3 linked regions of the Homo sapiens genome follow. The protein of the gene in region 3 purifies or fractionates together with the protein of the main gene of each other region. This does not show direct contact. Each region holds a gene or a part of one and is shown on either strand. Other genes may lie near its edges. The genes, in order: ILF2, STAU1 and DHX9.

Region 1 (3,745 bases), about 29 Mb from region 3:
TTGTTTCATACTGTTTTTCAGGCATCTATCCTTTCTCTGGTGACAAAAATAAACAATGTGATTGATAATCTGATTGTGGCTCCAGGGACATTTGAAGTGGTGAGTTTTTGATGATTTAGTTTTAGGAAAGGGCAGCTTTGGTAGTGTGGAAATTGCCTTGGCTCTTGACTTTTAATTTTCAGTTGTCTATTATCCAAAGCCAAGCCTAAAATGAGAAAGTACAGTGGAATTTCTTTGTAGTACTGATCTTGGGGACAAGACTTGTATCATTGTTATGCTAGCTGTGATGTATCAGGCTTTCATGTGGTGGTTTTGGGGGTGATTTCACCTCTGCTACTTCTTAATTTGGGTAACAGGTAGCTGTGTTGTAACAGTTCTGGGAGGACCTAGGCACCTTTTTTTCTTCTAAATTGTTTTTCCCCGAAATCCTTTTTCCAACAGCAAATTGAAGAAGTTCGACAGGTGGGATCCTATAAAAAGGGGACAATGACTACAGGACACAATGTGGCTGACCTGGTGGTGATACTCAAGATTCTGCCAACGTGTGAGTGTGCCTGTTTCTGGTCATGGGAACAGAACATAGCACTTGGATTAGGGGTTTAGGTATCTTTTTTTGTTTTGAGACAAATTCTCCCTCCGTTGGCCAGGCTGGAGTGCAGTGGTACCATTGTAGCTCACTGCAGCCTTGACCTCCACTACAGCAAGTGATCTTCCCGCCTTAGCCTCCCGAGTAGCTGGGACTACAGATGTGTGCTACCACACCCAGCTAATTTTTGTATTTTTTGTAGATACAGGGTTTCACCGTGTTGCTCGGGCTGGTCTCAAACTCCTGAGCTCAAGCAATCTGCCCACCTCAGCCTCCCAAAGTGCTGGGATTACAGGCGTGAGCCACTGTGCCCAGCCCTTACGGATCTTGAAAGCTCAAATTTCTTGTGAGAAAGGATGTTTGTAAGACAAATGTTTCTAGTTTTTGTTTTTGAGACGGATCTCACTCTGTTGCCCTGGCTGGAGTGTAATGGCGTGATCTCGGTTCACTGCAACCTCCACCTCCTGGGTTCTAGCTGTTTTCCTGCCTTGGCCTCCCAAGTAGCTGGGATTACAGGCAAGTGCCACCATGCCAGGCTAATTTTTCTATTTTTAGTAGAGACGGGGTTTCACCATGTTAGCTAGTCTGGTCTCAAACTCCTGACCTCAGGTGATCCGCCCGCCTTGGCCTCCCAAAGTGTTGGGATTACAGGCGTGAGCCACTGCACCCTGCCTGACAAATGTTTTTTAATGAGTGATAAGGGACAAACGCTGGAGTGTGTGTGTCTGAAAGAATGTATAGCAGGTTACTGTACGGCCATGTTTCTCAACTGGAGGTAATTTTGCCACCCAGGGGATATCTGGCAGTATCTGGCGGTACTTTTGATTGTTAAAACAAGGGGGTGCTACTGGCATCAAAAAAGGGTAGAAGCCAGGTGTGGTGGCTGTATTCCCAGCACTTTGGGAGGCTGAGGCAAGAGGATCACTTGACCCCAGGAGTTTGACCAGCCTGTATAACATAGAGAGATCCTGTACCTACAAAAAGAAAAAAATTAGCTGGGCATGGTGGTGCATGCTTTGGTCCCAGCTACTCAGAAGCCTGAGGTGGGGCCGGGTGCAGTGGCTCACGCCTGTAATCCCAACACTTAGGGAGGCCAAGGCCTGGAGTTCAAGACCAGCCTGGCCAACGTGGCAAAACCCAGTCTCTACCAAAAATATAAAAATTAGCCAGGCGTGGTGGTGGGCGTCTGTAATCCCCACTACTTGGGAGGCTGAGGCAGGAGAGTTGCTTGAACCTGGGAGGCAGAGGTTGGAGTTAGCAGAGATCGTGCCAGTGCACTTCAGCTTGGGTGACAGAGTGAGGCCCTGTCTCAAAAATAAGAAAAAAAGAAAAAAAAAGCAGCAGCCTGAGGTGAGAGGATTGCTTGAGCCCGGGAGGCTGAGGCTGCAGTGAGCTGTGATTGTGCCACTGCACTGCAGCCTGGGTGACAAGAGTGAGACCCTTTCTCAAAAAAAGAAAAAGGATAGAGGCCGTGGATGCTGTTAAACATCCTACATCCCCATCACCCCAAAGATTTGTCTAGCCCAAAATGTTATTAACTGCCACTGACCTGAAAAACCCTGCTGTAGAAAGAGGATATGAGTACAGGAGGGGTCCTGTTCCCTGAGTCTTCCAATTTTTCTGCCCAGGCCTTGGCTTTCTCTTATAAAAGTATATATTCTATTACTTACCCTTGCTTCAGCCTTGGATATGGGACAGAAATGAGAGTGCAAAGTAGCTTAGAGATACATAGAAAGTCTAGGCAAATAAATTATTATAACATTATGTCATTTTCTGTCAATTAGTGGAAGCTGTTGCTGCCCTGGGGAACAAAGTCGTGGAAAGCCTAAGAGCACAGGATCCTTCTGAAGGTTTGCATTTGTTGCTGATTCTGTATTTAGTAGCCATAGGAACCAGGTCTTGTAATTGTAAGTACACTTTCAACAAAATCAGATCAGACCAGATGGAAGAGTAAATGCAGAGTTTTATGTTGTGGGAGTTTTTGGCAGGGGCTTCAGGTGTTCAAGGTGTTCAAGGGAGATCTGTTTGATCTCCCTTCTAAAGCTCTGTATTCTAAATTCTCATTCTGGACTTTGTGCTGTTTTAAAAAATCCACCTGTTCCCCCCCACCCTGGATTTAACTTTGATCATCTAATGGAAATGTGAGTTATAGTTTTTGTTTATTCTGTTTTTTCAGTTTTAACCATGCTGACCAACGAAACTGGCTTTGAAATCAGTTCTTCTGATGCTACAGTGAAGATTCTCATTACAACAGTGCCACCCAATCTTCGAAAACTGGATCCAGAACTCCATTGTTAGTTCTTTTTTTTCCATTGCTGGAAAATTTAGGGGATATTCAAAACATGGTATTGTTGCTGTTTAGTTTACTTAGCTTGTTGCTATTCCACATGCAGCTTCCTGGGAATTGAAGAACTTAGGTTTATTCTGAACTTTGCTCTCTCCCTCTGTAATTTGGAAATAGTTTATCAGCTTGCTAGTGGAATTTTCAGATGGGGTGACCAAGAAAGCATTTGGAGGACTTAAAAAGGACTGAGAAAATATTTATGGAGGGGGATAGGCTTTTGAAGAAAACAGATCTTGCATGTTTCTAGTGATTTTTAGACAAGTGATTTGCTGATATGAGAAACACAGGGTGGCTTAAAGAATTGCAGAGTTGGTCGGGTGCGGTGGCTCACGCCTGTAATCCCAGCACTTTGGGAGGCTGAGGCAGGCAGATCACCTGAGGTCAGGAGTTGGAGACCATCCTGGCCAACATGATGAAACCCCGTCTCTACTAAAATAAAAAATTAGTGGGGCATGATGGCGGTTACCTGTAATCCCAGCTACTCAGGAGGCTGAGGCAGGAGAATTGCTCGAACCCGGGAGGCGGAGGTTGCAGTGAGCTGAGATCACGCCACTGTACGCAATCCAGCCTGGACAACAGAGCGAGACTCCGTCTATCCTGCCCTCCTTCCAAGTTTTTAAGACTGTAGCAGTGGTAATGAGTAGCTTGTTTAATGAAAATGTTTCATCCTGGCATATCATGCTTGTCTTTTTAGTGGATATCAAAGTATTGCAGAGTGCCTTAGCAGCCATCCGACATGCCCGCTGGTTCGAGGAAAATGCTTCTCAGTCCACGTGAGTCCCTCTCTAACCATTTGGATTAAGATAAACTTTTTA
Region 2 (3,745 bases), on a different chromosome or scaffold from region 3:
CCAGTATGTTTTAGTAAAGTTGCTGTTCTAAAAATCCCACCTGTCACCAGGATAACCGAAACTGCTCCCTCTACACTCCAACTGTATTTTTAGTTTTTACCTCAACAAGTAGCAATGCAATTTACACTTGGTAAGCACGGATTCCTGAAACGCCAAAATCAACCGGGAACCTGATTTAACTCCACCACGCTCTTAACAATGAAAGCTACAAGCAGAAGAGAAGTGTGACCTTAAAAACTTCCACACAGCCGAAGAACAGTGGCAGAACAGACTGAAGCACGTATCTTCGCGGAACAGAAGAAAACTTCCACACAAGCAATACTGCAACACGGAGGCGGGGCAAGGGCTTAAAAGGAAAGTCAGCCAACAGGGAGGGGTGAATATAAGCAAAGCTTCCGTGAAAAAAAACTTATCGAGGTGTAGAGCAAGACAAGACAGACAAATTTTTCCATCTCCGTACACCCCCCTTCAGAGCCCAACACACAGCAAGTGCTCTAGATAGGTTTGCTCAACTCAAGGGAAGCTTCTGCCAGCAACTTTCCCAGAAATGGAATGACAAGAAGAAGCTGGATGATGGCGGGGCGGGGAGAAATGGACAGGTTGCTCATCCTGCGGGAGATGGTGAATATCCTGCAGTTGCCTAAGCGGAGATGGAAAGAAACAGCATCCATCGTTTACAGACTGTCAACTACAGTGTCCCAATTAAGCGTACGCCCCTTTCAGATGTTAACAACTGAAAACAATGCCCTGGCTCTGGACATGGGCACGCGGAACACTGCAGCCTCTAAGAAACCCAAACGGATAGGTAGGTCAACTTCTATCCACTCTGCCCATTAAATTATACCTTCATATCACGCTAATAAATTATGCAGACGGTTTACTGGGACACGCTGTGGGTCTGGCACTCTGATAAGCGCTTTACACGCCCCATTTCACTGAACCTTAAGAGGCAGGGACGGTATTAGCAGCCCCTTTTCCAACCAAGACACAAAGACTTTTTAAGTGTCTTGCCTAACGGGGCAGAGCCGGGTTCGGCACCCGTTTTGGACACCTGGGCCGTGCTCTTAACCACTAAGCTACAGACCTGGGCCGGCGACACTGAGAGGCTCCAGCCCTCGGGGACCTGAAGCAGGGACCCCCCCCCCCCCCCGCCTGCGCCCCAGCCCCGGGAATAACTTCGGCATCCCCGCGCGCGCCATGCGGGACGAGGAAAGGCGGCCGCAGCACCTGTTTGTGGCACCGGTGAGGGCTGGAGGGGATGGGGGCGCCCGGGGCCAGGCCTCAGGGCGCCCCGAGGCGAGGGAACGCAAGAGGACCCGCCTCCTCCGGGAAGGCCCCGCGGGCTAGAGAGAGGCCCGGGAGAAGGCGGAGGGGTGCGCGGGCCCGCCGAGGCCTAGGCCCCACCCGCCGCCCACCTCCCCACCGCGGCGGCGCCCGCGAGGGCCCCACCAGGCCCGGCCCGGCCCGGCCGCCTCACCTGGCTGCTGCTCCGAGCTCGTCCCCCGGCCGGCGGTCCTGGGCGGTGGCGGCGAGGAGGGGAAGGAAGAAGGAAAAAAGGGAGAGGAAGAAGGGACGAAGGGAGGGAAGAGGCGGAGTGGCCGTGGAGGAGGCGGGCGCCGCCGGGCCGGGGGGGGGAGGCGGTCAAAGGAAGCGGGAGCCGAGAGAGACGCGGCAGCCGCCGGCGCAAACGCTGAAGAGCCGCTCAGGCGCCCGCAGCCCGGCAGGAAGTGACGGGGGAGGGGCAGGCGCCCGCCCCCGGCCCCCGCCCGCCTCCAGGCCCGGCCCCGGCCCCACCCCCACCCACGGTCCGAACCACAAGTTCCGGCTGGCACTGCGGCGGAGCCTGCGCTCGCAAGGCACGCCGGGGGCCCAGCGGGAGGAGCGCCCTGTCCCGCCTGGACCGCAGCGGCCCGTCCTGAGTCCCGGGGCCTGCCGGGAGTTGTAGTTCTGGTGGGAGTTTCGCGCTGCCTGCTGGACTCGAAGCGGGTCTGGGAGAACCCAGCCTACCTTCTTTCCTCCTCCACTTCCTTTTTCCTTCCTTGCTGTCGCTTCTTCCTCTTGTCCTGCCTCTGGCCTTCCTTTCTCTCCTTCCTGCAGTTGTTTCTTCCTCCATCTGTAAATGTTCATTAAATGCTTGCCATATGCAAGGCATTGCTCCAAGAGCTAAGAATGTAGTGGTGAACTGACAAAAATCCCTGCCCTCGTGGAGCTTACATTCTTGTGTAAGTAAAATACACAATAAATAAAATTGAAAAATGTGTAGTGAGATAAAAGACAATGGCCCGGGCGCGTTGGCTCAGGCCTCTAATCCCGGCACTTTGGGAGGCCGAGGCGGGCGGATCACTAGGTCAAGAGATCGAGACCATCCTGGCTACCACGGTGAAACCCCCGTCTCTACTGAAAATACAAAAAATTAGCCGGGCGTGGTGGCGGGCGCCTGTAGGTAAACAGCTACTCGGGAGGCTGAGGCAGGAGAATCGCTTGAACCCGGGAGGCGGAGATTGCAGTGAGCTGAGATCGCGCCGCTGCACTCCAGCCTTGGCGACAAAGAGACACTGGTCTCAAAAAAAAAAAAAAAAAAAAAAAAAAAAAAAAAAAAAAAGACGAGAAGTGCCAGATTACTATTTATTTCACCCAGACCTAGATAAACTAAGTGGTTTTTAGCAGCTGTATTGTATGGGAGGTTGGAGAGAGGGTGGCCAGTAAAGAATCTTGGCCAGGCGCAGTGGCTCACGCCTGTAATCCCGGCACTTTGGGAGGCCGAGGTGGGCGGATCACCTGAGGTCAGGAGTTCGAGACCAGCCTGACTAACATGGTGAAACCCCGTCTCTACTAGCCGGATGCAGTGGTGGGCGCCTGTAATCACAGCTACTTGGGAGGCTGAGGCAGGAGAATCTCTTGAACCCGGGAGACGGAGGTTGCAGTGAGCCGAGATCACGCCATTGCACTCCAACCTGGGCAACAGAGTGAGACTCTGTCTCAAAAAAAAAAAAAAAAAAAAAAAGAATCTTGAACTTCTGCACACTCAGCGAAAATTATGCTCGCGTTGTGAGAGGTCCAAGAAACTGAGAATGAATGAAGGAACTGCAGGTGCACAGAGCTTCTCTCTCCCGCTCACTCTGGGACTGCCGCCCCACTATTTAAAAATAATTCTCTCTTTCTTAAATGTCTCTCAATCTAATAATTGCTCAATCTCTCTTGCCAACGGAATATAAATTCAAAATACGAGCTGCTGTGTCTGAAGAGGCCCCTCCAAACAAGGCTTTGGAGCCTTAGCGAAGCCTGGGAGGACACTTGCCTCCTTACATTGCTTCTTGTGAAGTGCAATGACACTGAATTTCAGAACACCAAAAATAGTCAAAGGACTTTCACCGTCCCTTTAGTGCCCATCCAAGACAGTAGTAAGCAACATTCAGATATTGTCCAGCCCTCTGCTAAAAGTGATCTTTTCTTTCTAACTTCCAAGCAGTGTGGATCCCATACCTCCTTGGGTAAAGGAGCAGATGCAGAGAGGTCTCCCTAAACCCAAAGCTGCGCACAATCAGACAATCTCGTCAAAGGTGATTTTGCTATCACCCATAGGGACAAAAGTGGTGGGTCTATGACTTCCAGTCTCAATTTTCTTCCCTCTTTCCTCCTTCCGCATCTTTTTTGTTTTTTTCTTGAGACAGGGTCTCGCTCTGTCACCTAACTAGAGTGCAGTGGCATGAGCACAGCTAACTGCAGCCTCAACCTCCTGAGCTCA
Region 3 (3,745 bases):
GATTACAGGCACACGCCACCTTGCCCGGCTAATTTTTGTATTTTTAGTACAGACAGGGTTTTGCCATGTTGGCCAGGCTGGTCTCAAATTCCTGACCTCAGGTGATCCACCTGCCTTGGCCTCCCAAAGTGCTGGGATTACAGGCATGAACCACCACACCTGGTCTTGTTGAGGATTCTTGCATCTATGTTCATCAGGGATACTGGCCTATAGATTTTTTTTCTTGTGTCCATATCTAGTTTTGGTATCAGGGTAATGCTGCCCTCACAGGATGAGTTTGAGAACTGGTATGAGTTCTTCTTTAACTGTTCAGTAGAATTCAGCAGTGAAGCCATCAGGGCCTGGACTTTTCTTTGATGGGAGACTCTATATTACTGATTTAATCTCATTACTCATAGTTGGTCTTTTCAGGTTTTCTATTTCTTCTTGGTCCAATTTTGGTAAGTTGTATCTGTTCAGGAATTTATCCATTTCCATTTGGTTTCCAATTTGTTGGCATATAGTTGTTCATAATAGTCTCTAATGATCCTTTGTATTTCTGTGGTATCGGTTTAATGTCTTCTAGGCCCCTGCTGCTTTCAACACCCTGAAGGGTACAAAAAAAAAAAAATTAAGGTCTTTCCTTCAATGATTTTATTCTTAATTAAGGAGAACAATCACATGAAGAAAATAATAAGTAAATGATAAACTATGTTGTTCTGATTTTAAGAATGACAGTTTTAAAGGGAGTGATCACTATCAGCTAGAAGGATTAAGAAAAACATAAGGAAAGAGGTGAAAAATAAAGATCCATAGATATAATGAGCCCAGATAATTGATTAGTCTGGATTCCCTGGAACAATCCCAGCTGGAAATGTTTTGTATCATTACCTTCATGGGACGCACTGGAGTTTCAAAATTTAACAGTGACTAGTATAATAATTAAGGACACAATTATTCCAAAGACTTGGAACACAAAATTACTCCAAAGACTTGGAACACAAAAGGTTATCCAATTTAAACAAAAGCAACCTTGCAGATTTTATTCCTACCTTAAAGTAGTTTGCTGAGCACTTACAGTAATGTTCCAGGCACGGCAAGGAGCGACCTGCGTTAGCCAGGCAGAATGCCCGCCTTCACTGAGCTTATTTCTTTCATGGTTTTTTTTTTTTTTTTTGAGACGGAGTCTCGCTCTCTCGCCCAGAAAATGGCGTGATCTCGGCCCACTGCAACCTCCGCCTCCGCCCCCGACCCCGGGGTTCAAGCGATTCTCCTGCCTCAGCCTCCCGAGTAGCTGGGATTGCAGGAGCCCGCCCAGCCACCCAAGCAGCTGGGATTGCAGGCGCCCGCCCCCATGCCCGGCTAATTTTTGTATTTTTTTTTTTTTTTTTAGTAGAAACGGGGTTTCACCACGCTGGCCAGGCTGGTCTCAAACTCCTGACCCCAAGTGATTCGCCCACCTCGGCCTCCCAAAGTGCTGGGATTACAGTCACCACGCCCGGCCAGTTTATTTCTTTCAAGAGACACTGGCGTTCAGACTATCTGAATCAATCCGGTAACTACGCCCACTGAACACCTACTACATGCCAGGTATTGAACTAAGCCGCCCTTCATATGCCATCTCATGTAATTATCTCAACAACCCTACCAAGTTAGCAGCAAGGTTTCCAGTTCTGCCTTCGAAGGGAACCTCCTCTCACCGGAGATCCCTATGACAGACCCTGCGAAATATTTTGCTGCATCAGAATGCTACAGGCCGTCAACTCCCTAACATGCGCAAAAGCGGGCAGCCGATTATCCAGGGTAGTGGATTATCCAGGAGAGTGGATTATCCAGAGTAGCAGGTCTGGCGCGATGCCCGCCCGGCTCAGCCCATCTCCCTAGCAACGAAACCCTTCCGCGCCGCGAGGTTGCTGAGCCCCGCCCCCTCCATTGGCGCGCCCTCGCCATCCCCCGCCCTGGCACGCGCTCTGCGCATGCGTACGCTCGCTGGCCCCGCCCCCTAGCGCCGCGGTCGGAGCCATTTCGCCGATTCCTCCATGCGAGTTGCTGTGCGTTTCTCTGTTGTCTCGGTAGAAGGCCAGAGTCACACACGGTCCTAAGAGCTGGGCACCAGGAAGCGAAGGCTGGTAAGGGAGAGACGTTCCGGCTACCATGCGGGGCGGCGGGGTCGCGGGCGGGCGCCGTGGACCATGGCTCCGCAGCCGGCTTTGTTGCGAAGCGCGGGCGGCGGCGGCGGCTGGGGGTGGGGGAAGGGACGAGCCGCCCGCGGGTCCCCGGATTGCGGGTTGCGTGCGCGCCTCGCCGCGATGCGCTTGCGCCGTCCGGGCAGCCTGTGGCCCCCTCCCCTCTCCTCCGCCCAGCGTTTCCCGCTGCTGCCTCTAGCAGGCAAAGCGCGCTTCCTCCTCTGGCCTGCGTACGCCGGGGCACCGCGGCGGCTGAGGGAAGGGGGTGCTTCGCCTGTGGTGGTTGCCGCCGGGGCGCCACTGGCCTAGGGCTCTTCATTCATTCAAGCCACGAATAACTGGCGCCGTCGTGCAGGCCTTGTGGGTAGAGGAAAAAAAATTGAAGAATGTAAAGGGAGAGCGCCTTTGGCTAGTATAGCGAGGTAAGGCGTCTCGAAGGAGGGAGGCTTTGAGCTGATAACCTCGGCCAACGCGAAGGAAAAGCAGAGCCTGCAGAAGCGGAAGGGATTAGTTATCGCTTAAGGGCAGAAACTGGGCGGGAGCTGAAAGCAGGCCATGTGACTGGAGTGTGGCGAGAAGGCCTTCAAAGGAGAATGGGTTTTAGGGTGGCAAGAGTGGAAACAAAAACCGTGTAGGACAATATTTCACTAGCCCGGGTGTGCAGTAGTGGTGGCAGGAGAGATGGGGAGAAACGAATGGATAGGGGACGTATTTTGAAGCAGAAATGCGTAGTGGTGGAAGGTAGTAGATCTGGAGTCAGGCTACGTTTTCTGGAATTCTTGCGCCTTTTTTTTTTTTTTTTTTTTTGCAAGAGTCTCGCTCTGTCGCCAGACTGGAGTGCAGTGGCGCGATGGCGGCTCACAGCAACGTCGGTCTCCCGGGTTCAAGTGATTCTCCTGCCTCAGCCTCCGGAGTAGCTGGGACTACAGGCGCGCGCCACCACGCCCAGCTAATTTTTGTATTTTTAGTAGAGACGGGGTTTCATCATGTTGGCCAGGATGGTCTCGATCTCTCGACCTCGTGATCCGCCTGCCTTGGCCTACCAAAGTGCTGGGATTACAGGCGTGAGCCTCCGCGCCCGCCCGAATTCTTGCTCTTATAATTAGGAGCTCTGTCTTCCTGAAGCAAGATATTCTTTGTCTCAGTTTCCCCTTCTCTAAAGGGATAGTGATCTTACCTGTACAAGGTTACTAAGGATTAAGTAAAATAGTTCCATTTAGATGATCTATTATGGATATTGTTTGACACACATTAAGGGTTCTACAAGGGATAGCTATGGAGAATCTTAAGGGAGTGGACGACTCTCAACTTGTGCCAGGAGTAACTTGGTGGATGTCGTACCGTTTATGGAAACCGAAATGTAGGGGTAGGGTGTTGGAACAGATTTGAGGGGAAATTTAAAATTCTGTTTTGACTGAGATGCCAAGTTAGCATGCAAATGGGTGAGTTAGTGCCACAGTTGGATGAACTTAATTTTGGACTTTAAAGAGAAACGACGGGCGGGCGCGGTGGCTGACGCCTGTAATCCAGCACTTCGGGAGGTTGAGGCGGGCCGATCAAGAGGTCAGGAGATCAAGACC

The links.
Region 1: the proteins of DHX9 (region 3) and ILF2 fractionate together in Homo sapiens (co-fractionation; 5 studies listed by BioGRID and IntAct, with this or other methods). This does not show direct contact.
Region 2: the proteins of DHX9 (region 3) and STAU1 purify together in Homo sapiens (affinity purification with mass spectrometry; 6 studies listed by BioGRID and IntAct, with this or other methods). This does not show direct contact.

The regions. Positions count from the first base shown.
Region 1 is NC_000001.11:153,664,354-153,668,098, reverse strand, and holds part of ILF2 (interleukin enhancer-binding factor 2), read left to right. Parts: intron 1-21; coding exon 22-99; intron 100-441; coding exon 442-544; intron 545-2,370; coding exon 2,371-2,436; intron 2,437-2,762; coding exon 2,763-2,879; intron 2,880-3,624; coding exon 3,625-3,703; intron 3,704-3,745. UniProt on the Homo sapiens protein: Chromatin-interacting protein that forms a stable heterodimer with interleukin enhancer-binding factor 3/ILF3 and plays a role in several biological processes including transcription, innate immunity or cell growth.
Region 2 is NC_000020.11:49,186,639-49,190,383, forward strand, and holds the start of STAU1 (double-stranded RNA-binding protein Staufen homolog 1), read right to left. Parts: upstream 1,697-3,745; 5' UTR 1,478-1,696; intron 324-1,477; exon of another isoform or gene 101-323; intron 1-100. UniProt on the Homo sapiens protein: Binds double-stranded RNA (regardless of the sequence) and tubulin.
Region 3 is NC_000001.11:182,837,349-182,841,093, forward strand, and holds the start of DHX9 (ATP-dependent RNA helicase A), read left to right. Parts: upstream 1-1,998; 5' UTR 1,999-2,108; exon of another isoform or gene 2,109-2,243; intron 2,244-3,745. UniProt on the Homo sapiens protein: Multifunctional ATP-dependent nucleic acid helicase that unwinds DNA and RNA in a 3' to 5' direction and that plays important roles in many processes, such as DNA replication, transcriptional activation, post-transcriptional RNA regulation, mRNA translation and RNA-mediated gene silencing.